7 linked regions of the Homo sapiens genome follow. The protein of the gene in region 4 purifies or fractionates together with the protein of the main gene of each other region. This does not show direct contact. Each region holds a gene or a part of one and is shown on either strand. Other genes may lie near its edges. The genes, in order: TMPRSS13, GCN1, GM2A, AIRE, SMC1A, MCM6 and SDR9C7.

What was found.
Region 1: the proteins of AIRE (region 4) and TMPRSS13 purify together in Homo sapiens (affinity purification with mass spectrometry, with the first as the bait; one large-scale study listed by BioGRID). This does not show direct contact.
Region 2: the proteins of AIRE (region 4) and GCN1 purify together in Homo sapiens (affinity purification with mass spectrometry, with the first as the bait; one study listed by BioGRID). This does not show direct contact.
Region 3: the proteins of AIRE (region 4) and GM2A purify together in Homo sapiens (affinity purification with mass spectrometry; 2 studies listed by BioGRID and IntAct, with this or other methods). This does not show direct contact.
Region 5: the proteins of AIRE (region 4) and SMC1A purify together in Homo sapiens (affinity purification with western blotting; one study listed by BioGRID). This does not show direct contact.
Region 6: the proteins of AIRE (region 4) and MCM6 purify together in Homo sapiens (affinity purification with mass spectrometry, with the first as the bait; one study listed by BioGRID). This does not show direct contact.
Region 7: the proteins of AIRE (region 4) and SDR9C7 purify together in Homo sapiens (affinity purification with mass spectrometry; 2 studies listed by BioGRID and IntAct, with this or other methods). This does not show direct contact.

Annotation. Positions count from the first base shown.
Region 1 is NC_000011.10:117,922,903-117,926,402, forward strand, and holds part of TMPRSS13 (transmembrane protease serine 13), read right to left. Parts: intron 1-3,500. UniProt on the Homo sapiens protein: Serine protease. Cleaves the proform of PRSS8/prostasin to form the active protein. Cleaves the proform of HGF to form the active protein which promotes MAPK signaling.
Region 2 is NC_000012.12:120,132,216-120,135,715, reverse strand, and holds part of GCN1 (stalled ribosome sensor GCN1), read left to right. Parts: intron 1-989; coding exon 990-1,183; intron 1,184-1,310; coding exon 1,311-1,425; intron 1,426-3,500. UniProt on the Homo sapiens protein: Ribosome collision sensor that plays a key role in the RNF14-RNF25 translation quality control pathway, a pathway that takes place when a ribosome has stalled during translation, and which promotes ubiquitination and degradation of translation factors on stalled ribosomes.
Region 3 is NC_000005.10:151,259,685-151,263,184, reverse strand, and holds part of GM2A (ganglioside GM2 activator isoform 1 precursor), read right to left. Parts: intron 3,431-3,500; coding exon 3,269-3,430; intron 1-3,268.
Region 4 is NC_000021.9:44,284,556-44,288,675, reverse strand, and holds the start of AIRE (autoimmune regulator), read right to left. Parts: upstream 2,801-4,120; 5' UTR 2,670-2,800; coding exon 2,538-2,669; intron 2,120-2,537; coding exon 1,945-2,119; intron 1,699-1,944; coding exon 1,543-1,698; intron 1,160-1,542; coding exon 1,085-1,159; intron 332-1,084; coding exon 218-331; intron 1-217. UniProt on the Homo sapiens protein: Transcription factor playing an essential role to promote self-tolerance in the thymus by regulating the expression of a wide array of self-antigens that have the commonality of being tissue-restricted in their expression pattern in the periphery, called tissue restricted antigens (TRA).
Region 5 is NC_000023.11:53,398,655-53,402,154, reverse strand, and holds part of SMC1A (structural maintenance of chromosomes protein 1A), read left to right. Parts: intron 1-2,424; coding exon 2,425-2,566; intron 2,567-3,500. UniProt on the Homo sapiens protein: Involved in chromosome cohesion during cell cycle and in DNA repair. Central component of cohesin complex. The cohesin complex is required for the cohesion of sister chromatids after DNA replication.
Region 6 is NC_000002.12:135,848,944-135,852,443, reverse strand, and holds part of MCM6 (DNA replication licensing factor MCM6), read left to right. Parts: intron 1-880; coding exon 881-1,042; intron 1,043-3,500. UniProt on the Homo sapiens protein: Acts as a component of the MCM2-7 complex (MCM complex) which is the replicative helicase essential for 'once per cell cycle' DNA replication initiation and elongation in eukaryotic cells.
Region 7 is NC_000012.12:56,927,909-56,931,408, forward strand, and holds part of SDR9C7 (short-chain dehydrogenase/reductase family 9C member 7), read right to left. Parts: intron 2,577-3,500; coding exon 2,318-2,576; intron 1,646-2,317; coding exon 1,482-1,645; intron 1-1,481. UniProt on the Homo sapiens protein: Plays a crucial role in the formation of the epidermal permeability barrier.

The sequences.
Region 1 (3,500 bases), on a different chromosome or scaffold from region 4:
GGCTGTCACTGCTACCACCTGGCTATGCCTCTGCAGCTCCCAAGGGTCCTCACCCAAGGCTTGTTCAGGGCCCTCCAGACGTGTTGGGGCAGGAAGGCAGGGCAGGGGTCCGCAGGAAAGCGGTAAGGGACAAGCCAGGGAGGGCTAAAAGGAGCAGCCCCTGGCTCTGGGAGTCTTTCCAAAGCCTGTCCCTGGACAGAAGTCTATAAGCATTTTTACTCCCACTTTACAGACTGAGAGGTAGAGGCCCAAAACATTTGTGTGCTTTGCCCAAAGTTGTTCAGGCCCATCTCACAGCAGAGGAGGGACTAAACCCAAGGCCCCCCACTTCCAGCCCAGGGGTCTCGACACCACAGCTCCCAGGGTTAGATCCCCCCTGAGGCGAATGGGATGTTTTTCTGGTTTCCAGTTGCAGACTCTGCCCCTTGGGCCGTTACCTGGTGGGGATGGTAGTAAGTTAGCCAGCCCCTGAGTATGTCCAGCTCTTGTCCTCTCCTGGACCTTCTGGGGGCCCAGCCAGTGAGAGAGGGGGCCTGAGTGATGTGGGCTCATGGTTGCTTCATCTCAGTGGTTATGGAGCTGCTGCTGTGGATCGAGCCCCAGGCTCTGCATAATGAGAGTTCTTCAGCCATAAGCAGCAGCCTGAACTTGGGAAATATGCACTTCAGGTCCCCCAGAGCCTGGGCTTGCAGTGTGAACCACCCTATAAAAAGCTCTCCCGCAATTGAACAATGAGAACACTTGGACACAGGATGGGGAACATCACACACCAGGGCCTGTCGGGGAGTGGGGAGACGGGGGAGGGATAGCATTAGGAGAAATACCTAATGTAAAGGACGAGTTAATGGGTGCAGCACACCAACACGGCACATGTATACATATGTAACAAACCTGCACGTTGTGCACATGTACCCTAGAACTTAAAGTATAATAATTAAAAAAAAAAAAAAAAAAGCTCTCCTTCTAGTCCTGAAGAATGTCCAGCAGGGAGCAGTAGCTGCTTCATGGCCTGAGGGCGGGTGCATCAGGGCCCGTTTCAGTCCAGTTTAAGCCAATTGGGCCTCCCTCCTCAGCCCTGGGCCATCCCTTCGTAAAGCTACCACCCAGGGTTGGGCATATCACAGGCTGTCAGAGTTGCAAAGATTCTGAAAACCCTCTAAGCTGGGCGTGGTGGCGCCGGCCTGTAGTCCCAGCTACTTGGGAGGCTGAGGTGGGAAAATGGCTTGAGGCCAGAAGCTGAAGACCAACCTAGGCAACATAGCAAGACCCCATCTCAAAGAAAAGAAAAGAAAAGAAAAGAAAACCTACCCAAGCCCTTTATACTATTGTTGAGGCGATGAAGGCCCAGAAAGGCTGTGTGACTTGCTCACGGACACACAGCCAGGTGGGGACGGTGCCAATTCTAGAACCATGATCTTCTGGCCCCCATCCTTGGGCTGTTACACAACACTCTGCTCTTCCCCTCTCTGTCCCTTACCAGCCTCCATGAGAAAGGACCCTTCCCAGACAGAGGCCCCCGTGGCAGCGTCCCTTTTCCAGTGACCCTGGGCATCAAGGGCGCCCATAGGGTGGGCACGGGCAGACCATGGGCCAACAACCCAGCACTCTGGGCTAGGCAGGAAGAAAAACCCCTCACTAAACCCTTCTGGAAGCACTGGCGGCACTGAGAAAGATCAGGATCTCCCTTTGACAGAGCCTAAAAACCCTCCTTGCCTGTTGGGAACCTGGGGAGCCCTGGGGTTGTGGCAGGGGAGGCCTGAACCCTTCCCAGCGAGGGCCCGGCTGGACTGGGTGACTTTTTTCCCTTTCTCACGGCTAGACCCAGGCTTCACTGTACCTCCAGGTTCCCAAGGCCCTTTCCTACTCTCCCCCTCCCCGAACCCAGAGAAACCCCACAAATACAGGCTCTCCTCAGCACACAGGCATCTTCCCCACCACCTCCTCACCCAGCACCAGCATCTCCAGCACACACGCAGTATACAGCTCAGGGACTTGGGTCAGCCCTTGAGGCAGACTGAACTCTGGAAGGGGCCAGAGCTGCAGGGTCTGCCTCGCCCTGGGGGTGGGGGGCACGGGGAGCCTCGCTTCTGCTCCTAGGCCGCCGTGTGACCTTGGGGACAGTCACATCCTTCTCTGGGCCTCAGCTCCCTCTTCAATAAATTAAGGGTGTTGGACAATCAGCAGTTTTCAAACAGGGTTCCACAGAGCATTTCAGTTTCCGTGGAGGTGCCTTGCAGACCAGCTGGTGGGGACTGTGGTGGGCTCTGAGCCCTTACCCCACCTCAACAGAGAAGACCGACCTTTCAGTTTCATACAGCGGAGTCAACATAACATTCATTTGAACAAAAGAGGCAGCTGCTACAACGAACTTGAAAGGGACTGGCCAGAGTAAGTGCTGAAGTCCCTTCTAGTTTCCGATGCCTCCTGTGCACATGAAAAAGCTCAAGGAATCCCTGTTAGACCAGAATCAAGACGCCTCCTTGTTCATTCATTCGTTCATTCACTCATTCATTCATTCATTTATCAAATGCTGTAAAGAACATGGAGTGCCCACTATTGCCCAGCAAATAATGTTTGATTGCCCAGGAACTTGCTGCCTCAATGTTTCCCTGTGTCTGTGCCTTCTCTTGCTGCCAGTCCTAGGGTAGTGACACACTCAGGGCTGGTACATAATGGGGGCCCCTCTAAAGTTTTGGGTATTGCTTCCCTCCTAGGGAAACCAACCCCCATCTGGTGCTGTCAAGGCCTCCACTTGACGGCTAAAGCCAGGGTTCCCTGTGGTGGCTTCCCTCATGCCTGCACCACCAGTGCCCTGCCCACTTGGCCAGGCACATCCACCCTTGTTGTTGCTATACCAAGAGGAATCTGTTCTGCCAAAACAAGACACTTAAGCTAAGTGGCCATTGTTACATCAGTTGTCCTTCCCACCCAGCTCCCCAGCCCAGGGCCCAATACACACACTCCCGCACGCTTACGCTCACATCTGCCAAGTCTCAGGGGACAATGCAGGGGAAATCGAGGTGGCTGTGCCAAAGGAAGTCTGCTCCTCACCAATGACAACATGAAACAGAGGACAAGGTGAGGGCTGCACACCTGCAGGGGCACAGGGCAGGTACCAGGGTCCTTGGAGGACGAGGTGAAGGCTGCACACCTGCAGGGGCATAGGGCAGGTGCCAGGGTCCTTGGAGGACGAGGTGAGGGATGCACACCTGCAGAGGCATAGGGCAGGTGCCAGGGTCCTTGGAGGACGAGGTGAGGGCTACACACCTGCAGGGGCATAGGGCAGGTGCCAGGGTCCTTGGAGGACGAGGTGAGGGATGCACACCTGCAGAGGCATAGGGCAGGTGCCAGGGTCCTTGGAGGACGAGGTGAGGGCTACACACCTGCAGGGGCATAGGGCAGGTGCCAGGGTCCTTGGGGTGCCTGGGGCTGGGATGGGGCTGGGACACGGCATGGCAGAGTGACTTGACCCGCGGGTGAGCCATCTCAGGAACTGCCCA
Region 2 (3,500 bases), on a different chromosome or scaffold from region 4:
TTGGCACTGAACCTCCAAACAGTCACTCTGGTTTTCCTAATTAACAATAAGTAAGCCGGGCGTGGTGGCTCAAGCCTGTAATCCCAGCACTTTGGGAGGCCGAGGTGGGCAGATTACCTGAGGTCGGGAGTTCGAGACCAGCCTGACCAACATGGAGAAACCCTGTCTCTACTGAAAATACAAAATTAGCCGGGCATTGTGGCGGGTGCCTGTAATCCCAGCTACTCAGGAGGCTGAGGCAGGAGAATTGCTTAAACCCGGGAGGCGGAGGTTGCAGTGAGCTGAGATCGCGCCTTGCACTCCAGCCTGGGCAACAAGAGCGAAACTCCGTCTCAAAAAAAAAACAAAACAAAAAACAGTAAGTAAATCTTTACTCTTGGACCCACCTGTATTGTATCAAAAGTGTGCCTGTGTTTCTGTATAGTCAGGGGTTGAACTGGATTTTTAGTTAGGTGGGTACACATTTGTGCAGGGAGGATTCTCCAAGGTCATTTGTTTCACAGGCTTGTTCTGAGGGCTGAATGTGGAGTGCGTATCCTGCTGTCAGTTGCTCAGTAGATGGGCTCTGCAATTATACACTGAGTCCCTTTCCCTGTCTTGGCATTAGAACTGTGCTTCAGTACTGCCGATAGTCTGCCCTGCTTGTTAATGTATTCAGAGGAGGATTTGAGTCACTTATCGATATGGACAGGTCTCCACTAAGCCAAACCCCAACGCAGCCAAGGCTGCGAGACAGCTCCCTCAGATAGCGGCCGCCGCCTCCTCGGCCTCCTGCTCCTCCAGTGTATCAAAGCATGCTGGATATGACCAGGAGGCCAAGCGAAACCTGTCTGTGTTTGGCCTCTCTGACGGGCTATCTGTCCCCAGCCCTGTATGAGAGCTGGACTCGCTGTGGTGGTTTGGGATTGTCATTTGTTCTCATGCCTGTGGTACACTGTGGCTTTGGGTCTACCACAACTGTCTTTCATGGATGTGGGTTCCTCCCACAGGTTGGGATTGCCCTGAAGCCCTTCCTGCCCCAGCTGCAGACCACTTTCACCAAAGCCCTGCAGGACTCCAACCGGGGGGTGCGCCTGAAGGCCGCAGATGCTCTGGGGAAGCTCATTTCCATCCACATTAAGGTGGACCCCCTCTTCACAGAGCTGCTCAATGGCATCCGCGCCATGGAGGACCCAGGTGTCAGGTACGGCGCTGGCAAGGGAGCACTGTGGCCTCCAGGAGGCCAGGGGTTGCTGTGGGCCGAGCCTGCGCTGGCAGGAGGGGTGGTGGTGGAGGCACCCAGGGCTTAAGGCGGTGCATTGCTTCTGCAGGGACACCATGCTGCAGGCCCTGAGGTTTGTGATTCAGGGAGCAGGGGCCAAAGTGGATGCCGTCATCCGGAAAAACATCGTCTCACTCCTGCTGAGCATGCTGGGACACGATGAGGTACGGCTGCAGGCAGGACTAGTGGCAGCACTGGACCACTGGTTTCCCTCCTCCTCCTTAGGTTGAGTTCTTCACTTTGTGTTAGAACCAGTACAGCTCAGTAGTAATAAGCATTCCTGACATTTCTATCACCCTGTATGCTTCACCAACATTTCCTCGGGTTTCAAGGGAAACGGGGCAGGTATTGTGGATATATTGGTTATTTCCGTTTGTTTGTTTGTTTTTTGGCTGAGTCTTGCTGTGTCACCCAGGCCGGAGTGAAGTGGCACAATCTCGGCTCACTGCAGCCTCCGCCTCCTATCAAGCGATTCTCCTGCCTCGGTCTCCCGAGTAGCTGGGATTACAGGTGTCCGCCACCATACCCAGCTAATACTTGTACTTTTAGTAGAGATAGGGTTTCACCATGTTGGTCAGTCTGGTCTCAAACTCCTGACCTCAGGTGATCCACCCGCCTCGGGCTCCGAAAGTGCTGGGATTAACAGGCATGAGCCACCGCGCCCGGCCGGTTATTTCTATTTTATAGATGAGGCAAGTAAGCTTTGTAGAGACCCAGACCTCTCACCTATTTGCTCTCTGATCTTAAAGAAGTCACTTTCTCTGTCTGCCTCTCATTTCCACTTTTGTAAAATGAAGAGGTTTATTTATTGTTTTGTGAAACATTTGCCGAGCTAAAGGGCCTATCCCAGAGGTGCATAGACCTCGTGGTCACAGACCTCAAGAAACTTAGTGTGTAGTGGGATAAATGGTCTCCAGGGTGTGTCCCGGTGGCAAGTCTTAGAGGTCTATTTTCGAGGGTGAGACTTGTCTGGGCCATACCCAGCAAGTAGTAGAGTCCAAACCAGAAGCCCTGGACTCCTGGTTCTGTCCCAGTTCCATCAGCCTCACCTAGTCTGGAAGCATCTGTCAAATATTTGGCTGCGAGCACTGTGGGGCCAGTAGGGAGTTGAGTCTATGGAGAAGAGTTTTCTGTTCCCTTTTCAGACAGCCCTCTGTTGTGGTCTAATTTACTTTGTAGGGCCAATCTAGGAGGAGAGGGCCTTTGGGCTCACATGGTTTTACACGTCATTGACACACACACACACCCACACACACTCCTCCTGCCCACACCTGCAACACACACACTTGCTGCTGCACTTCCCATGGCTCCAAAGGCCTAGTTCTGGTCCCCAGGCGCCAGCTGTCGGACTCCAGCCCCAGCCTTCTCTGTGGGGACAGACAGGAAAGTCTGCTGTCTTGGTCACAGTCTTTCAGGGCTTCTACAGAGTCATGTGTACAGTGCAAGCAAAAGTTAGTATTGAAACATATTTGCATTTTACCACAGTGCAGCTTAAAATAGATGAAGTTGGAGAGAGTCGGTGTCAGAGCCAGCTTTAGCTTGGCACCTGGGCTTCTGCTTCGAGCTCAGAGGCCCAAACTGCTGGCAGTCCATTCTCTTACCCTCTGAACCTCCACTCAGATTGAAGGTGGCAGTTCAGGGTGCCAGCCTGGCATTAGCTTTTTGGGTTATTGAGTCCCTGGTTGGTGGTTTGTTTTGGGGACATGTTGAGTTGGCACCTGTAATAAGGAACATAACTTAAAATCCTCTCTTGGTATTCCATAGTTAGCTGGCCAGGGAGGAGCACGGAGCCGCTCGCGTACCTGGCTCTGATTTGAACAGGAAGTGCTTGCCTTTCCTTATCTTCCTTGGCTTGATTAGTGGCTTTAGTTTGACTTCCTAGGATGAACCCAAGTAATTTCGGTGGCAGTGGGGCACTCATGCAGTAGGGAGATAGCAGGAGTCATTCTGGCCACAAGATGACACAAACTCTGTGGGAGAAAGGAGCTCAGAGTGGCCGTCTCTAGCCGGCTTCCCTGGTGGCTGGGGGCAGGTGCCTCCCCTCCTGCCCCTCCCGCCCCTCCCTGCCTCACAGGGCTGTTGATAGTAATTGAGATAATAAATATGAAACATTCAGCCTTCCTAAGAAGAAAGATGCTATGTAAATACAGTTATTACTGCTATTACAAGGATGATTACCATATGCATACACACTGGGGTTTTCTATAATTAAGTGAAGTGCTGGCTGTGTAATGTTTAA
Region 3 (3,500 bases), on a different chromosome or scaffold from region 4:
GGAGGCAGAGGTTGCAATGAGCCATGATCGCGCGACTACACTCCAGTCTAGGCAACAGAGTGAAACTCCATCTCAAAAAAAAAAAAAAAAAAAAAGAAATTGGGGAAAAAGAAGGAGCAGAGGGGATCTGAGGCTAATTTTTCCTAAGCACAAGTGACAGTAAAGACAGAGGAGATTATGTAGGCCCAAATTTATGAAAGGTAATAAAGCAATGGAAAAGGAGAATAGGGAGTAAAACCCATCTTAATGGTTTGTGAAGAAGCCAGGAAAAGCAGGCTGAGGGCAGAAGAGCGGGTTTGCCAGCTTCTTGTTTCCAAGTCAGCTGCATAGCCCCCTCCCTGGAAACACCAGTGGCTGCATGGTGATGGCAGCAGAGGGAGCATGGCGGACGGCCTACCAGGAGAGCCCACACTCCAGATCAGCAGAGGGAGCACACAAATAAATGTGTGTGACCCTGGCAGAGAAACAGTCCAGTGTCCATACATAGGGAATGATTCCATCCCTTGGCCCAGATCCAAGGGTACAGGGCTTGACCCCCTATCACTTGAGGAACAGTAATGGAAACACAATGACTCTGCTAGGAAAAGGCTTGGTAGGAGGTGCAGGGGAGCTGAAAGCTGCCACATATCCAGGACTTGTGTCTGGGTCAAGAGACTGCAGGATAAGACAGATACTAATCGAAATGTTCACAAGATATAAAATGTACTGAGCATGTCCTGGGTGCCAGGCCCTGTGCAAAGCACTTTCCACATGATTTTCTAACTCAGGTATTGCTCAAGGAAAGCCCATAACGTAGGAGCTGTGATTAAGACAGGTCTAAGGATAATGATAGAAACACAGAATCCAAATCAGGAATCTTCTAAATAATTAACACAAAACTGGTACTAGAATAGATCTGGATCAGGAACAGACTGAAGGGCATAGAGGAGCATCATATAAAGGTAGCAATTTTAGCTAGAGAGGAAAGGACCATATTAAATGGTGTTGCAATGGATATATGAAAAGTCTTCATTGTTTTCTAAGAAAATATAAAAACATACACCCCTAAAATAGTCAATGGATGGAAACAAACAGGTTATTCCCAAAGTAAATACAAAAGGCAAATAAACTTATGAATAGACATCTACGCTCACTAGGAATGATGCAGGTTTATTCAAACATTGGGAGGCACTTTGGCAAAATGTATCAAAAGACCTAAAAAGTGTGTATCTAGAGAATCAGAAAATTATAAAAAGATGTACTATAAGAATAATTTCTACAAAGGTGGTTACTACAGCAAAACAAAAAACAAACAAACAAAAAAAACCCTCTGGCCAGGTACAGTGGCTCAAGCCTATAATCCCAGCACTTTGGGAGGCTGAGGCAGGTGGATTGCCTGAGGTCAGGAGTTCAAGACCAGCCTGGATAACATGGTGAAACCCCATCTCTACTAAAAATACAAAAAGTAGCTGGGCATGGTGGCAGGTGTCTGTAATCCCAGCACTTTGGGAGGCCGAGGCAGGCACATTGCCTGAGGTCAGGAGTTCAAGACCAGCCTGGCCAACATGGTGAAACCCCATCTCTACTAAAAATACAAAAATTAGTGGGGCGCAATGGCAGGTGCCTGTAATCCCAGCACTTTGGGAGGCTGAGACAGGAGAATCGCTTGAACCCGGGAAGTGGAGGTTGCAGGGAGCTGAGATTGCGCTACTGCACTCCAGCCTAGGCAACAGAGTAAGAACCTGTCTCAAAACAAACAAATAAACAAACAAACAAATAAAAACTACCCTGGAAACAAACTAAATGTTCAACAATAGACTTGTTATATAAATTATGAAAGATCCACATCAGAATATTTCTGCCATTAAAAATGATTGGGTGGGCTGAGCAAGGTGGCTCACGCCTATAATCCCAACATTTTGAGAGTCTGAGGCAGGAGGATTGCTTGAACTCAGGAGTTTGAGACCAGCCTGGGCAACACAGGGAGGCTCCGTCTCCATAAAAAATAAAAAAATTAGGTAAGCATGGTGACATGAACCTGTGGTCCCAGCTACTCAGGAGGCTGAGGTGGGAGGATCCCTTAAGCCCAGGAGGTCAAGGCTGCAGTAAGCCATGATCACACTACTGCACTCCAGCCTGAGCAACAGAGTGACACACTGTCTCTAAAATTACAATACATTAAAATAATAAAATAATGATTGGATAAAAAAAAATTGAATAAGTAGAGCCACCTAATCCTTGGAAAGATATGGACATATAGTATGAGGCAAAAAAAATAGCAAGTATAATAGCACATATCATATAATCCCATGAGTATAAGTGTGTATATATTTACAAACACATAAAAATTCTGATGGGATATATAAAGAGCAAACACTGACTATCTCTAGGATTTAGATTACTGGAGGACATTTACAATGAGCACTGCCTATTATCATACATATCCATTAAAAATAAATATGTGTGTTATGTATGTAATTGTATGGGGGAAAGTTGCAAAGAATATCCTATAAGATGTTAAAAGTGCTTATCCCTTATCACTAGGTAGTGAGATTTCAAGTGATTTATTTTATTTATTTATTTATTTTGGGACAGAGTTTCACTCTGTCACCCAGGCTGGAGTGCAGTGGTGCGATCCTGGCTTTCTGCAACCTCTGCCTCTTGGGTTCCAGCAATTCTCCTACCTCAGCCTCCTGAGTAGCTAGGATTACAGGCACATGCCACCACGCCCAGCTAATTTTTGTACTTTTAGTAGAGATGGGGTTTCACTATGTTGGCCAGGCTGGTCTCAAACTCCTGACCTCAAAAGATCCACCCACCTCAGCCTCCCAAAGTGTTGGGATTACAGGCATGAGCCACCACACCTGGCCTATTTTATTTATTTTTTGACCACTTGTGTTTTCTAAAGTGACTATATATTACTGGCTAATTGGTATATCAATTTTATAATTAACAACAAAACCAAATTGGCCAACCAGAGCTGTCAGACAATAATGAGCAGTTGGCCACCAGGCCCAGAGAAGGCCAGGACGCTTCTGCCAGGTGCAAGGTATCCGTCACTCCTGCCCTCACCAGGAAGTTGCTGGCGCTGACATCAGAGATTCCTTTCAATCTTATGATCCTGAGATTCCATGAACCTGTGAAAGAGTGTCTGAATCTACATGTCCTGTACTATTCTCTGGGAATCCAGGATTCTGAAATTCTTCACAGTTCCCCAAGCATACATGCCCCAGTACCCCTGCTGGCCAGACCCTCGCACCTCCCCTTCTCCACCCACCCCCAGGCTCACCTTCAGAGGAGAACTCAGGGGGACACTGGTGCTGCCCATGACACTGAGGGTCACATTTCCAGGAACGATGATGGGGTCAGGCTCCAGAGTCAGGCTTCTGATCACCGCAGGGTCCTTCCCTTCATCACAGTTATCCCAGGAAAAGCTACTGAGCTGGGATGGCTGGGGACAATCAGGCAGCAAGGAAGGAGAAGAAGAAAAAGGTTGACAAAAGAAACTATCACAGATCACA
Region 4 (4,120 bases):
GCCTGGACCGCTGGCCTTGCAGAAGGTCCCCCGACAGGGAGACTTCAGTGCTCACCCTCCTCCTCCAAAGTCAGCAGAACCACAGGCAGAAACTCTGGCTACCTGAGCAACAGTCCGGTCTGCTGTGGGACCACCAGGATGCAAAGGGGCGTGGTCCTCCTTCCATCTTGGAGCCTGGGTCTCCCCATCAGCCCCATCTCCCCGCCACAGCGTCTACCTGACTCAAACACCTGCTGGATGAGGATCCCCTCCACGGCCCCTCGGGCTCCCGGGACGTCCCCGGAGGACATGGCCACAGCTCTCTGGACTGAAGCTGACATGGTCTGAATCCCTGGGAAAGGGAACACCCATTGGGGTCACCCGTGGGGAAGACTGTTCCCAAGCACATACTCTATGCCAGAAGCAGGCAGCACTGGGCTGCAGAGCCCTTTCCTTCCAGCCAGGGCAGGCCAAGGAGGGGACCCAGCCCTGCCATGTGCAGACAGCCCACAGGTAAGTGCAGAGACATGAGAATGTGTGTGTTCGTGTGTGCACCCAAGTGTGCGTGTGCTGGGGGGTGGCAGTGTCAGCAGAGCTGGCACAATGGATAGGAAGGCATGACCAATGACCAGACCCACCCCCCCATGACATGGGCCCTGTATTGTGCCGGGAGGGACACAGAGTTCCTAGGCTCTGCCCTCAGGGAGATAGGGGGTCTCTGGAGTCCAGTGCCCTGGGAAGGAAGGAGAAGGGGACAGGAAGGGTTCAGCCTGCATGCAGCTGGGGGCCAGGGATGATTTTCTGGAGGAAGCTATGTCTAGGCTGGTCCTGAAGGATAGGGAGTGGACGGGCAGAGAAGGTGCCTGAGAAGGGGGTCCCAGAACCAGGGTGCAGTGGGGGCAGGGGCGACTGGCAAGATCATGCTTAGACCCAAGGTGTCCCCTTCCTGGGTCTGGTGGTGCAGCTTAGGCCCTTGGAATGACACACCAGGCCAGCACGTCCCCAGCCCCTAGGACAGGGTCTCAGAGGGCAGGCCCTGCTCTGACCCCTGACCCCTTGCCCCTGGCCAGGGAGAAGGGAGGCGCTCCCACTGGGCCCCGCTCACCGTTCCCGAGTGGAAGGCGCTGCTGCTCTGCGCTGCTCTCCGGCTTCTTGGGGGGCTTGGCCTTCAGTTGAGAGCCTGAATGGGGGAGCTGGGGGCAGCCTGGCCTCCCCTCTCAGTGGGGGTGAGTGCCGGTGGGCAGGGGCCCGCGGTGGGAGGGCGTGGAGGGGGCGGTCCAGTGCTGGGTAGTCCCTTTGCCGGGCTCTGGTTTCTCATCAGTAAAAGGGAAATGAGACCCGCCCGCCTACTTCACCAGCTCCGGGGAGCTCAGCCTTCAGGCAGGAGGGAGCTGAGAGGCTGGTCCAGTGTGTGGGTCTAGTACCCAGAGGAGACCCCCACAGCCCCAGGCAGGCTGGCCCCACACCCAGTGGGTGGGAGCCCGGGTGGGGAGGGGGCGTGGGCTCCCGGGGAAGCCCGGGAAGACTGGAGACCCTGGCTGGCTTCCCCTGCAGGGAGGGTACCTGGGCTGGCGGTGCCCCTTGGAGTCAGGGCTGCTGGCGCGGCAGCTCGAGCCTCTTCTGAGGCCTTCCTCTTGGTGGGGAGTCTGGGTGGCGGTACCAAAGCCTTGGGGACGGCCGGGGGCTTCCTCCCCTTCCGGGGCTGGCTGAGGTCCACATCTGCAGCTCAGGGGCAGGAGCAGGGTCCCAACCTCAGGGTTTTCTCCAGGGGTAGGGTGGGCCCCAGAACTGGACACCTTGGCCAGACAGGTGAGGCCTGGCCCCTTTGCCTCTTAGGATCCAAGACGGTCCTGGAACATCACCCACGGGCTCCTCAAACACCACTCCGGTTCCAGTCCAGCTGGGCTGAGCAGGTGACAGCAGCTGCCCCAGGCCCCCAGCATGGCTGAGTCCACCAGGACCCACCTTTGGGGAAGCTGTCCAGGATGGGCTGCAGCCGGCCATAGCGCTCCAGGTTGTAGTCCTTGAACAGCACCCTCCAGAAGTCCAGGATGGCTGTGGAGTCCTGGGTCAGCAGCCAGGACAGGAGGGCGTGGAAGGCCTGGGGGCAGCCCTCCTTTTCCTTCAGATGAAGCGTCTCCTGCAGTGGGGTGGCATGAGGGTCCCTGCCATGGTCCCCCACACCCTGCGGCCTGCCCATCTCCATCATGACTAGAGGGTGGAGCTCCCAGGCAGAGGCGCTGGCGACCTGGACAGCTCCACGCCCATCTCCTCGGCTTGTGGTGGAGTCAGGTGGTGGTGTAGGGGTGTTGAGGGTGGGGCTGGGGGAACCTGGAGGCCATTCCCTTGGCTTGGGGGTGAGGTGTGGGGACGGCTGGGGGAAGGGGACCAACTTCTAACTTGTCATCAGGGACGCCCCTGGCTCCTTGTGGGGAGGGAGTTGGGGAAGGCTGGAGGGGCTTGGGGATCTGGAGGGGCGGGGTCCTCCTGGAACTTCCCCGGGGACTATCCCTGGCTCACAGGGCCTGGGGGCAGCGGGGGGCGGGCGGGGAGCCCACCTGAAACTTGTCCTCGGGGACCACGTCGTGGTCAGCCAGCGCGTGCAGCAGTGGGAAGGCGCTGTCCACGGCCACCGCGATCTCCGTGCGGTGCAGCCTCAGAAGCCGGCGTAGCGCCGCGTCCGTCGCCATGGGGTGGGCGCGGGGACCCGGGGCTGGGGCGGACGCGGTGGGTCCCGGGACACTGGCAGCCCCTCGCTTGGCCTCGGGTCCCGGCGGGGCTGTGGGGCCTCCGCGCCGGCTGTGCGCCCGCCCGTCTCCCCGGTCTGCGAGCCACGCGCGCCGCTGTTATACCCCCGCGACCACGCAAAGAGCAAAGGCCGCTCCGCCCCGGCGCCCAATCAGGGCCAGGGCCTCCCGCAGGGACACTTCCCTGTGATGGAGGCGCTGCTGTCCCTCCCTCGCTCTCGGGAAGTCTCCGGGCCTGGCCTGACTCACCCACCAGGGCAGCTGCCTTGGGGGCTGGGGACAGAGACTCGCTCTGTGCGGGACTCAGAGAACTCTCACTTCCGAATGTGGCCCTGTCCTGCCTCGGCGAGGGCCCTGCTCGAATGGGGCAAAGCCGAGACAGGTGCCCTCGGCGGGGAGGCTCGGGTCTCAGGGCCCTGGCAGGGGCTGCCCAGGGTGCACCGGCCCCTCCCAGTGGCCGGCAAGAGCCTCCATGGAGGCTGGATCGGGGTGGTGTTCCTGGGGGACCTCCACACAAGCTGAGAGCCCCTACTCAGGGGCCCGCCTGGGGCTGTGGGAGGAGCCCGATGGAGGCTCAGTCTGATGCAGGAGACGGTACGGCAGCCTGGGTGTTGCCAGGGAGCTCCTGACCTCACCATCTTAGGCTAGCTGTGTGACGCCAGGCAAGTCCTTTCCTTCTCTGAGCCTCGGTTCCCTCATCTTTAAAAGGGGCACACTCGCCTGGGGATTGAGGCTCGCATTGACCCCCTCCTTCCTTCCTCCAGGTGCTTTAGAAGGAAGGCGGCCAGCCCCACAACGGGGGTCCTGAGTGTGGCCCTGAGTGAGAGCTCCCAAAGGGTCTTCCTAGGACCAGTGACAGAGGCTGAGGGATGCTGTGGCCTGGACAGGAGCTTCCGGGGGCATCTGGGAAGGTGTCCGGGAGGGGAGCTGCAGTGGACAGGAGCCGAGGGTCCCAGGTGGACGTGAGTGGGGACAGTGCCCCCAGTAAAACAAGACCAGGTGCAGAGGCCTGGGGCCTGCAATGATGCTGAGGCTGTGGTGGCCCCGCAGGCATGGCCTGGAGGGGGGGTGGCCTCAGTGGGAGGCCTTGGTAACAGTCCCCTTGTCTGTGCGGTCAAGCCAGGGAAGCAGGCCCTGTGTGCAGGCTGCAGAGAACCACGAGAGGTCTCTGGGCACGAGTGTTCCCACTGAGCCAGAGAACGAGATGACCTGGCCAGCATGGATTAGGGCTGAAGGGTGGACGAAGGTACCAGGAAGCCTGAATCCAGGCAGCACTGGGCTGGGGGCTAACTGATGCAGTGAGAGACGCCACCAAGATTCCCACGTGGGCAGGCGTGCCGTTTGCTTTTGGGCAGCCAGAGTCCAGGATGGAGAGCGGCAGACACCTCTCCTCT
Region 5 (3,500 bases), on a different chromosome or scaffold from region 4:
GGATATAGAATTGAATCAGACTGTATTTCTTTCCTCAGGAAACATATAGAGTACTGGGGGAAACATCAATTTGAGGACAGTGTGATCAATGGTGTAATTAAGGTAGATACAAAATACTGAAGAAATTTTCAAGGAACTGCAAATCAACAACAGGAAAAATAAAAAACAATGACAAGAAACCCAATGGAAATGTGGCTAAGTACTTATGATACCCAATGCAATGAAAAAAGTAAAAAAAAAAAAAGTGGCAAATAATATAGATAGGCTTTCATGGAAAGAGAAGTTCAAGTGGCTAATGACCATAGGAATTGAGGTCTAACCTCTTAATCAGAGAAATGCAAATTTAAAAGTCTGACAGTATTAGGTGGAAATCTATAGATGTCCTGTGTAGTATGTGAAAAAAATATATGTGTATATATATAATGTATATATATACACATATATAAAACCTATGGGTATATATCCCTGAGAGAGTCTTGCCATAGGGTCCCAAAGAGATACACATTCAGTGTCATTCATCTTGGCATAACTTGTAGTAGTGGGACATTGGTGGCAATGTAGATGGCCATTACTGGGGGAGCATAAGTCAAATGAATATATAGACTGGAATACTGTGTGGGAGTTCACAGCAAGAACTAGATTTGTGGGCAGTAATGGATAACTTATAAACCTGGTATTGACCAGAAAAAAGAATAAAATTTATAACACAGTAGATTTGTGTAAATTTTAGAACTAAGACATTTTACAAGGATATGCATTTTTAAGGAATGCATGTGTGTATGTCACTTTGTGGTGCATGTTCACAGTAGGGAAGGTAATGGGAATGGAAATTGGGGATTGAAACAAAGAGGACAAGGGAAGGGTCTTGCCCAGGCAGTGGTGATAAGTGTGTTATGAACTGTGGGATATGATTAACTTGCTTCTGCACCTAAAGTCTAAAAAGGGAGGAACCCAACAAAGTGTAATAGAAACTAGGAACCTGCTCAGAACCGTCAGGAAAGGTTTTACAAAACAGGGAGTGATGACTGGAGACCTGAAGAGTGAGTAGGATTTAGCCAGCCAGGCAGCGACAGAAAAAGTGAATTCCAAGCAGAGAGAACAGCATGCTTGGAAGTGTGAGAGAGCATGCCTTGTTCTGGATACTAAGTAGTTTTTAATGTCTGGAGCATAAAAGCAGGGTCAGGAAGAAGGTGGGGAGTGGTGGAGAGGTCAGCAGGGGCCGGATCACAGAGGCCTTTGTGAGTCATACTTAGGAGATTGGATATAAAATTGCATAGCTCAAAATTATAGAGTTAGTTATATTTCATTTGGATTATAGTGGCTAATAGGTTTAAGCTGCTAGCATGACATCTGGCAACATCTGTCACACCATATTGGGAGTTGGAGAGGGCAATTGGAAGTTAGTCCTGCCTGGCCTGCCAGTGCCTGTGTATGCTGGTTGCATACTCTTGAGTTTCTGAAGAGATGGAGAGGAGGACAATAGCAGGAATCCAGTATTTTCTCCATGTTTTTGTACTATCCAAGTTCTGCCCTTTAAGAGGTTCTGGGACCTTGGGGCAGAAGTTGGGATGCTGTAGTTGAAGCCCTTGGACAAAAGTAAGCTGAGTACAGTCAATATACCTGGTGATAATGGTAACTAAAATTGATTGAGTAGTTATCGTGGACTCGGTGTGGTTCTAAGGACTTTATACATATTAACTCATTTAAAAATCTCCCAATAACCCTGAGGTAGGTACTATTATTATGTTCATTTTGCAGATGGGGAAACAGGTCTGGAGAGTATAACCAACTTGCCTGAATGACATTACTAGTAAGTGGCAGAGTTGAGATGCCAGTCTTCTTAATCCACTACATTATGTTGCAGTGGTGGTATACTAGAAAGAGCCCGGGTTTTGGTGTTAAATCTGGGTTTCAGTCTCACATGTGCCATTTACTAGCTGTGTGGCCTTGGGCAAGGTCTTTTACCTCTTGGCCTAAGTTTTCCTCATTTGTAAAATTAGGATAATAATGCCTACTTGCAGAGCTGTTGATTAGAGGATTAGAGATAATGTATGTAAAGTACATAGAAGCCTAATAGGAATTACCATAGCTGGTAGAATCAGATGGACTCTTTTATGCCTCCTTGTAGGAACTTGGAGGGCGCTGGGGTCTTCATTGTTTAAAGGGGGATAAATAAGGTTTGGCCGAATCTTCCCTGCCTTATGCCATGTCCACAGGGCTAGGCTGAGGAACTTAGTTCTTCAGCTTCAGGGGACCGTTTTATGTGCATATGGATGGATGAAGCAAGTTGTGACTGAAAATCAGTAACTCTGGGTCCCTGAGCCCTGGGTCTAGTTTCCCTTTCTTCCCATAGTTGGATTTTGTACATTGGTTATCTCTGGCTGATGAGATTATGAGTGATTCTCCCCCCACCTTTATACACAGTTTGGAGTTTGAGAATCAGAAGACTCGCTTGGGCATTCAGTTGGATTTTGAAAAGAACCAACTGAAGGAGGACCAAGATAAAGTACACATGTGGGAGCAGACAGTGAAAAAAGATGAAAATGAGATAGAAAAGCTCAAAAAGGTAAGGAAGGAAAGAATTAAAAGACAGACTAATAACTGGGAGGAAAAATGGGAAGAAATACGACAGACAGAAGGATAATGTCCACAACTTAGAAATTTCTCATCTAAATCAATAAGAAAAATACCAAGACCTAAACGGGAAAAATGGATAAATGTCACAAACAGTTCAAGAAGACTTTCAAATAGTCCCTAAACACATACAAATAATTTAGTCTTACTAAAGAAATGCAAATTAAAGCAACAATTAGATACAATGTATTTTGTAACACATCGTGGAAAATGTAAAAACAGAAGACACAATGCTCAATACCAGCCATGGTATAGGAGACCAGTATTCTTTTTTTCTTTTTTTGAGATGGAGTCTTGCTCTGTTGCCCAGGCTGGAGTGCAGTGGCACTATCTTAGCTCACTGCAACCTCCGCCTCCCGGGTTCATGCCATTCTCCTGCCTCAGCCTCCCAAGCAGCTGGGACTACAGGTGCCTGCCACCACGCCCAGCTAATTTTTGTATTTTTAGTAGAGACGGGGTTTCACCATATTGGCCAGGCTGGTCTCGAACTCCTGACCTCATGATCCACCTGCCTCGGCCTCCCAAAGTGCTGGGATTACAAGCATGAGCCACCGTGCCTGGCCAGGAGACGAGTATTCTTATGTAATGTGGCACCATCCTTCAAGAAGCTTCACAATGCATTTATACTCTGTAACTCAGTAGTACCTGAGGAGATCATCCAAAATGCTGGCAAAGCTTTATGCAAACACTTTGATGTTTATAACAAGCATTATTTATAGTTCCAAATTGGAAACTACTCAGTGCCCCTTGGAAAGTGGGAATTTAGCAAATCATGCTACGTTTGTAACATTATTTATGTAGTGTCTTCAAACTTTAGTAATACACAGACCCTTTTTAAAGGAAAAATAGTCCCTAAGATTGCCAGT
Region 6 (3,500 bases), on a different chromosome or scaffold from region 4:
TCTTTGAAGGAAACATTGGATTCATCTAGGCCATTATGATAAATATAAATTACTGTTTTACAGTGATTGATGCATTGTATTGGACTAACTCTGTTCTGGACCCAGGATTCTTACCTGGACATAAACCCCCAAATGCTTGGCATTTTCCCAAAATAGGGTATGAAAAGGAAAAAAAATACTCATTCTGGTTGAGATTTTCACACTGTTGGCTAACTTGACTTCTGGAAGGTGTTACTAGGTATTGATCATTTATCATCTTCACTTGATTATTCATGAGATTGCAGTTGGCTCTCACTGTCCCAAAGAAATTTAATCATTTAAAACTAAGGATTATGGGTGATTCTTGTGTAAAAAAGAGCATCTGTTCTCCATTACTGCATACTGATATACTGATCCCTCTGTAACCTTGGCATGCTTCCTTAATATGGTGAATTCCTTGCTCTGAAAAGCTGAGGATCCTTTAGATATAAAGTTTATTGAAACAGCTTTTTTTTCCCTGCAAAGAGTGTGAGTTAATTAATTGAGCCTCAAATACTGAGCATTAATTTATTTAATGAGCACTGACATCCTGAGGTGTAAAAGACATTACATCTTGTTCCATTGCTTCAGCTTGTTAAGCAGCTTTTAGAAATGGTCATTTGCTTAAATACTAAGCCTTTTTTCAGGTTCATAAAATTAGTAACATGGAATTCACAAGCCTCCTTAATATTAGTTTCTTTTGAAAGACATTACAATAGTAATTTATTGTCACTGGCTTCTCAAAGTTTCAACCCTCTCAGGTTCCCTAAATGTTTCCACCTGGAAGGCTCTTAAACTTAGGTTTACCGTAGCTCTCATCAAATAGAAATGTTTCTCTAACTTGAGTGATGATCTGAAACAGATTTCCAAAGAGTCAGAGGACTTCATTGTGGAGCAATATAAACATCTCCGCCAGAGAGATGGTTCTGGAGTGACCAAGTCTTCATGGAGGATTACAGTGCGACAGCTTGAGAGCATGATTCGTCTCTCTGAAGCTATGGCTCGGATGCACTGCTGTGATGAGGTATCAGAGTCACTTTGATATGATGAGAGCAGAGATAAACAGATTTGTTGCATGTTTTTAATCTTTGGTATGGGACATACTAGAATTCACTGCAAATACATTTTTATGTAACTGTTGAATGCTCATACGACCATGGAATTCTTCCCTTTAAAGAGCTTGGTAAGCATTTGAGTGTAGTTGTTAGACGGAGACGATCACGTCATAGTTTATAGAGTGCATAAAGACGTAAGTTACCATTTAATACCTTTCATTCAGGAAAAATGTACTTAGACCCTACAATGTACTAGTAGGCCTCTGCGCTGGCAATACAGATAAGATAATGTAGCCCCTGGCCTCAAAGGAACTCTCCTCCTTAGGTTGCATTTGTATAATGTTTGATTTTTAGATTGTTCTTTGAGCCCTGCATTCCACGAGGATAGGTCAGTGGGTATTAACGAGGTAAAAGGGGAGTAGTACGAAAGGGCATTCAAGCGTCCCATCTTCGCTTCAACCAAAGCAGCCCTGCGTTTTCCTAGTTTTATTAATAGGTTTGATGTAAGGTCGTCTTTGAAAAGGGGGTTTGGCTTTTTTTTACAGTGTGACTGAGGTATAATTTATAAAAAGGGAAATGTATGGCATGGTGAGTTTTTTCACATACATCCTTGTGAATACCCAGCTCAAGATCCAAAACATTTCCATAATTTCAGAAAGTTCCAAACCCCTGCCTCTTTTCAGTCTTAGCCCTCTTCCCCTGAAGTAACCACTGTTCCGACTTCAATCACTACTTTTATCCCACAGGTTAATTTTTTGGCTTTTTTCCACTAAATTTTCAAATTCTTTGATATGGTACTTTACTATTGACGAAGTACTTTCACACTAGGTTATTTAATATTCTTTGATTCACCCAATATTTAGGGAACACCTGTAGGGGACAAAAAATGAATGAGAGCCCCTGCCTTCCATTGCTGCTAATCTGGTGGGAACGAGACATGTATTTAATTAAGCATGTAAAAAATAGAGTGGGTGATGAAATAATCTATATACTAAATCCCCATGACACACAGTTTACCTATGTAACAAACCTGCATGTGTACCCCCGAACCTAAAATATAAGTTGGAAATTAAAAAAAAACGAGAGGGAGAATAGAGCATCACAACCAGAGTGCTGAGATGAATTACTTTATTACCAAAGAAGGAGGAGGACTCAGGGAGGTGCCGACGTTTAAACCCAGTCACTGAAGGGTGTGCAGAATTTGGATAGGCAAGATACCCTGGGACAAGGTCATTCTAAAACCATGCTAACATTTGTACTTTTTTTTTCATTGTGATAGTTCCTGAAATGAGTTGCATAAAACTGGTACATGTCTTAGGGCAGTCTCTAATTGATTTTTATTTTGTTCTATTTTTAAAAATTAGTCTTCAAATAGCAGATTCACATGATATTAAAATATATGCACATAAATTATATACACAAATATATTTTCTGAATGAAATTTAGTATCTGCATATATTTAAGAGCTATTTCTGTCTCATATGTTCATAATCTTCATCCATTAAAAAAACTTTTGTTAGGCCTTTCTCACTCTAAGATTATAAAAAATTCTCCCATTATTTACCTAGCTAGTTTTCTAGTTGTTCCAAAACCATTTATTGAACAATCCATCTTTTTGACACTGGTTTGGCATGCCTTAATTATATATTCTTGTGTGTGTTAGGATCTCCTTTTGGACTTTCCATTCTGTTCATTGAGTCTTATCAGCTCCTCTTACATTGGTACCATGATGTTTTAATCTATGGGGCTTTGTAGTTTAAATGTAGGGCTAGTTCCAGCGCATTGTTCTCTATCAGCTGTTAGGAACTTAGAAATCAGCTTGCTCTGTTTTAAAGAAAAACCTGGTATTTTTTTATCAGTATAACATTCTATTTATATTAACTTGAAGAATTGAAAACATCTATGATTTTTCCTATTCAGTAACGTATCACTTAGAATAGGTTAGGTTGTACTACTATAAAATCTCAGCTGCATAAAACAATTTTTTTTTGCTTGTGCTACACATCCATTAGGTCATCAAGGGACTCACCTTGTCAAGTTACTCAGAGATTCAGGCTGATATAAAGGTTTGATCTTGACATACGCTTTCATGATGACAGAAAGCAGGGAAGAGAAGGTGGTGAGCCATGTGCTTTCTCCCCCTTCTATCCAGAAATGACACATACTCACATTTCATTCGCCAGAGAAATTAACATGGCCCCTCCTAAGTTCAAATGGATAGAGAAATGCCTTCCTACCAGGTGCCCAGAATTAGAAGAGCAAACATTTGTGAACAGTTCTGAGTACCACAAATACCGTTATCTTTCCACTTAAGTCTTCTGTTTCACTCAGTAGTGCTTTAAACTTTTCTTCATATGTTTTTCAGTGTTTCTTGTTGAATTTCTTGATATTTTATCATGTTTGTTCGTACTGGGAGTAGCCTTTTTT
Region 7 (3,500 bases), on a different chromosome or scaffold from region 4:
CTTTTCTGCTTAAATAATTTGCATTGGATCTTCTGTCACTGAGTAAGTCCCAACTAGTGTAAATCCTTAGACATTTTCTTCTCACAGAATCCTAACATGTCTAGCACTAAAAGATGAATTTATCTAAGGAGTACTCCAAACATTTTTCCCTGAGACTTCCCTAAATCAATGAATGAAGACACCTCCATTCACCATGTTCTTCAAGCTGTAAAGCTAACACTCACCCTTGATAGCTTCCTCTCCCTCACCCCTTAATCCTCAGTGTGCTTTGATGCTCTAATTTATTCCGTATACCCCAGCTACCTCCCATTGCTTCCCACCTGCTGGTTTCTTTAAAGTTCCTCAAATGGAGTTTTCTGCCTCAGAGCCTTCCTGCAGAAAAAAAGTCCCTACGCATCCCCTCTTTCCCCTTCCCAGCAACACCTAACTCTTATTCCTCCTCAAAGTCAACTCAGAAGCTCTCCCCTTCACCATAGTCTGAATTGGGACCGCAACTTCCTGCTCCATTCTTCTTTCACAACCCTGTTTCTCCTCTGTAGCACTTATCCACATCTACCATAAACACATGTGTTTTGATTTATGTTTGTCTCCCCTACTGGGCCATAAGCTACAGGCAGTGAAGGGCAGGCATACTGCTGTGTCCGCTCCAGCTCTCCAGCCCCACACAGGCTTGGGACATGGCAGCCTTGCATGCTTTGTATTACTGATTCAAAACAAAAACAAAAAACAAAAATGCAATAAAGTGTGTATGTATTAAGTGAAAAAAATGGCTGACTTGGCTTTGTGCTCTGTTGACGTACGACATCCAGCAGACAACTTTCGTGGCAGAAAGTTTTGGGGCAGCAGGGTAAACAGCTGCCGTGTCCCACCTCTACCCTCCAAAAACACCTATGATTCACAGGAGACCCTCAGCTCAGGGAAAGAAAGAGAGTTGCCTAGAGACCCTCCCTTTTAAATCCCCATGTGCTCATTTTCTTCTTTATTAACAAGCACTCAGAATGTGCAAAGTACTTCACACATACTAACCCTCATAACAACCCCATGAGGGAGGCACTATCTTTAGCTCCATTTTGTAAATAAGAAAACTGAGGCATGGGAAAACTAGGTAATAGGTCCAAAGTCTCCTAGCTGGTAAGTAGTAGAGCCAGGATTTGAACCCAGGCAGTCCGGCTCCAGCAGCCATGCCCTTGATCTCTTTGCTGTATTTATCTCAGTGCATTTTCACCTGATTCCCCTGCATCATGATGCTGTGGGGGCAGGTGCCAGGAGTGGGCTGAATTGCCCTTAACTCCCCGGGCTGCTCCAGAAGTGATGATTCTGCCACTTGCTCTCTATTCTCAAACCCCAGCTGTGCCACTATGTGACCTTGGGTCCTGAACTCCTCTGCATTTTGTCTCACCATCTGTAAACGGAAAGCCAGCTAATGACCCCAAGACCCACTCGCCCCCCTCAGAGACCCCTCTCCTGCCCCAGGAACTTACAGATGCGGAAATAATCCTCTCCGTAGCTGTCCCGGGTCTCCTGAGGCAGCCTCTCCCAAAGCTTTCGCATGCGTGACTCCAGGTTCTCCTTGCCGAGAATGGCTGTCCGATAGTTCCCTGGCTCAATGATGCAGACTTTCACCCCAAAGTAGTAGAGCTCACGCCTGGGAAAGAAGAGTTGCAGTCAGTCTGGGCCCCAAGATGACAATCATCACGGAGAGTCACCTCTGGATGGGCTGGTCTTTCAGGAACCTAGAGATGCTTCTCTCACCCCTGTACTTGGCCCTGGCATTGCCTTTGTGCAAATAAGCCCTTCCTTAGGGACTCAGCCCTTTCCAAAACTGGCCCAACAGTCTCTGGGCAATTTGCATTAGGCACAACCAGCGGGAAGAAGTCAATAGAGAATCTAGGCCAAAGCCTTGCCTCCCACCAGGTCCCTCCCATTAGCAACCCCTCACTCAACACCCACACGGTGAATGGTGTGGATATACACAAGGCCTGCACGCTCCTCTAAGGACCTCCCAGAGGGGACCTGTGCCTCCAGGCCTGTCTGTCTGTTTGGGGGACTCTCCCTCCTCTCACAGGCCCAAACAGGGTTTCACTCACCCTGGTGCCGCTCAAGGGAAGGCCCACCTGATGCCTTGTATTTCCACCCTACCTCTTCTCCTCATCCCTGCTCTTGGTCCTTGGAGAAAGCACCTTGAGGTCTAACCTTCCTTCTGCTATTGTGTTAGCTTCCTGTCTGCGGAATTCCCCTGCCCACATGCTGTCACTCCCAACCCTCTCTAATCTCTGGGATTTTCACCCAGAATTGTTCAGTACCAGGGCCCAGTTACCTTATGCTGTCAGAGAAGGCCTCAACGCCAAACTTGGAGACGCAGTAGCCACCACCAATGACAGCCACACGACCACCAGAGCTGGACATGTTGACAACCCTGCCCCGGGCTCTCTTGACCATGGGCAGCATGTGAAGGGTCACTTCGATCAGTCCCACCAGGTTCACATTAATCACCTTCACAAAGTCATCCTTGGTCAGCCATTCGTTGGGACCACTGGGCAGGCCCACACCAGCATTGTTCACCAGGGCCCAGAGGCCTGGGGGTGAGATGAACCACACAGAAATCATCAGTGGGCCTGGGAAAGAACCAAGTTCTGCTCCCCACCGGCTCAGTGCCCTCAAGGATGGTTGAGCAGGTGCACAAGACATAACTCGGTCAGGCTATAACATAAAAGGAAGGTGTGTCTTTTACTAACTCGTTTTCCCTGAAGGGACACTTTTTCCTGATTCACATAAAGTCTGCCGGCTAGCTGGCGCTCTGTACTAGCTACAATCGAGGTGTTAGGTGACAGCATTTCAGCTATCAGCTTTGGGATAAGAGTTTCATTTTCATACCAATGAATTAATGTTTAGATCCCTTCCCCATCATACTTCTCCCTCTCTATTCACTTAAGTATAACCAACTGCATTTCACATACTACCAAAATCAATCCATTCATTCATTCATCTTCACACATTTATTCATGCATTTATCTAGTCTGTGACAATTACAGGGTGAAGGAGGCCAGGTGCAGTGACTCACACTTGTAATCACAACCCTTTGAGAGGCTGAGGTGGGAGGATCACTTGAGGCCAGGAGTTTGAGACCAGCCTGAGCAACAGAGTAAGACCCCTGTCTCTACAAAAAAAGAAAAAAAATTAGTCAGGCGTGGTGGTATGTGCCTGTAGTTCTAGCTACTTGGGAGGCTGAGGTGGGAGAATCACTTGAGCCCGGGTTACAGGTTACCTTGTTCGAGGTTACAGTGAGCTATAATGGTGCCATTGCACTCCAGCCTGGGTGACAGAGTGAGACTCTGTCTCTAAAAATAAAATGAAATAAAACGATATAAAATAAAATAAAGTAAAATACAGGGCAAAGGAGACATAAAATGAACAACACAGCATCTTATCCCTCAAGGAACTCACAAGCCTAGAAGGAAATAATAATATTTATAAATAAATATATAAAATATTTAAATAAA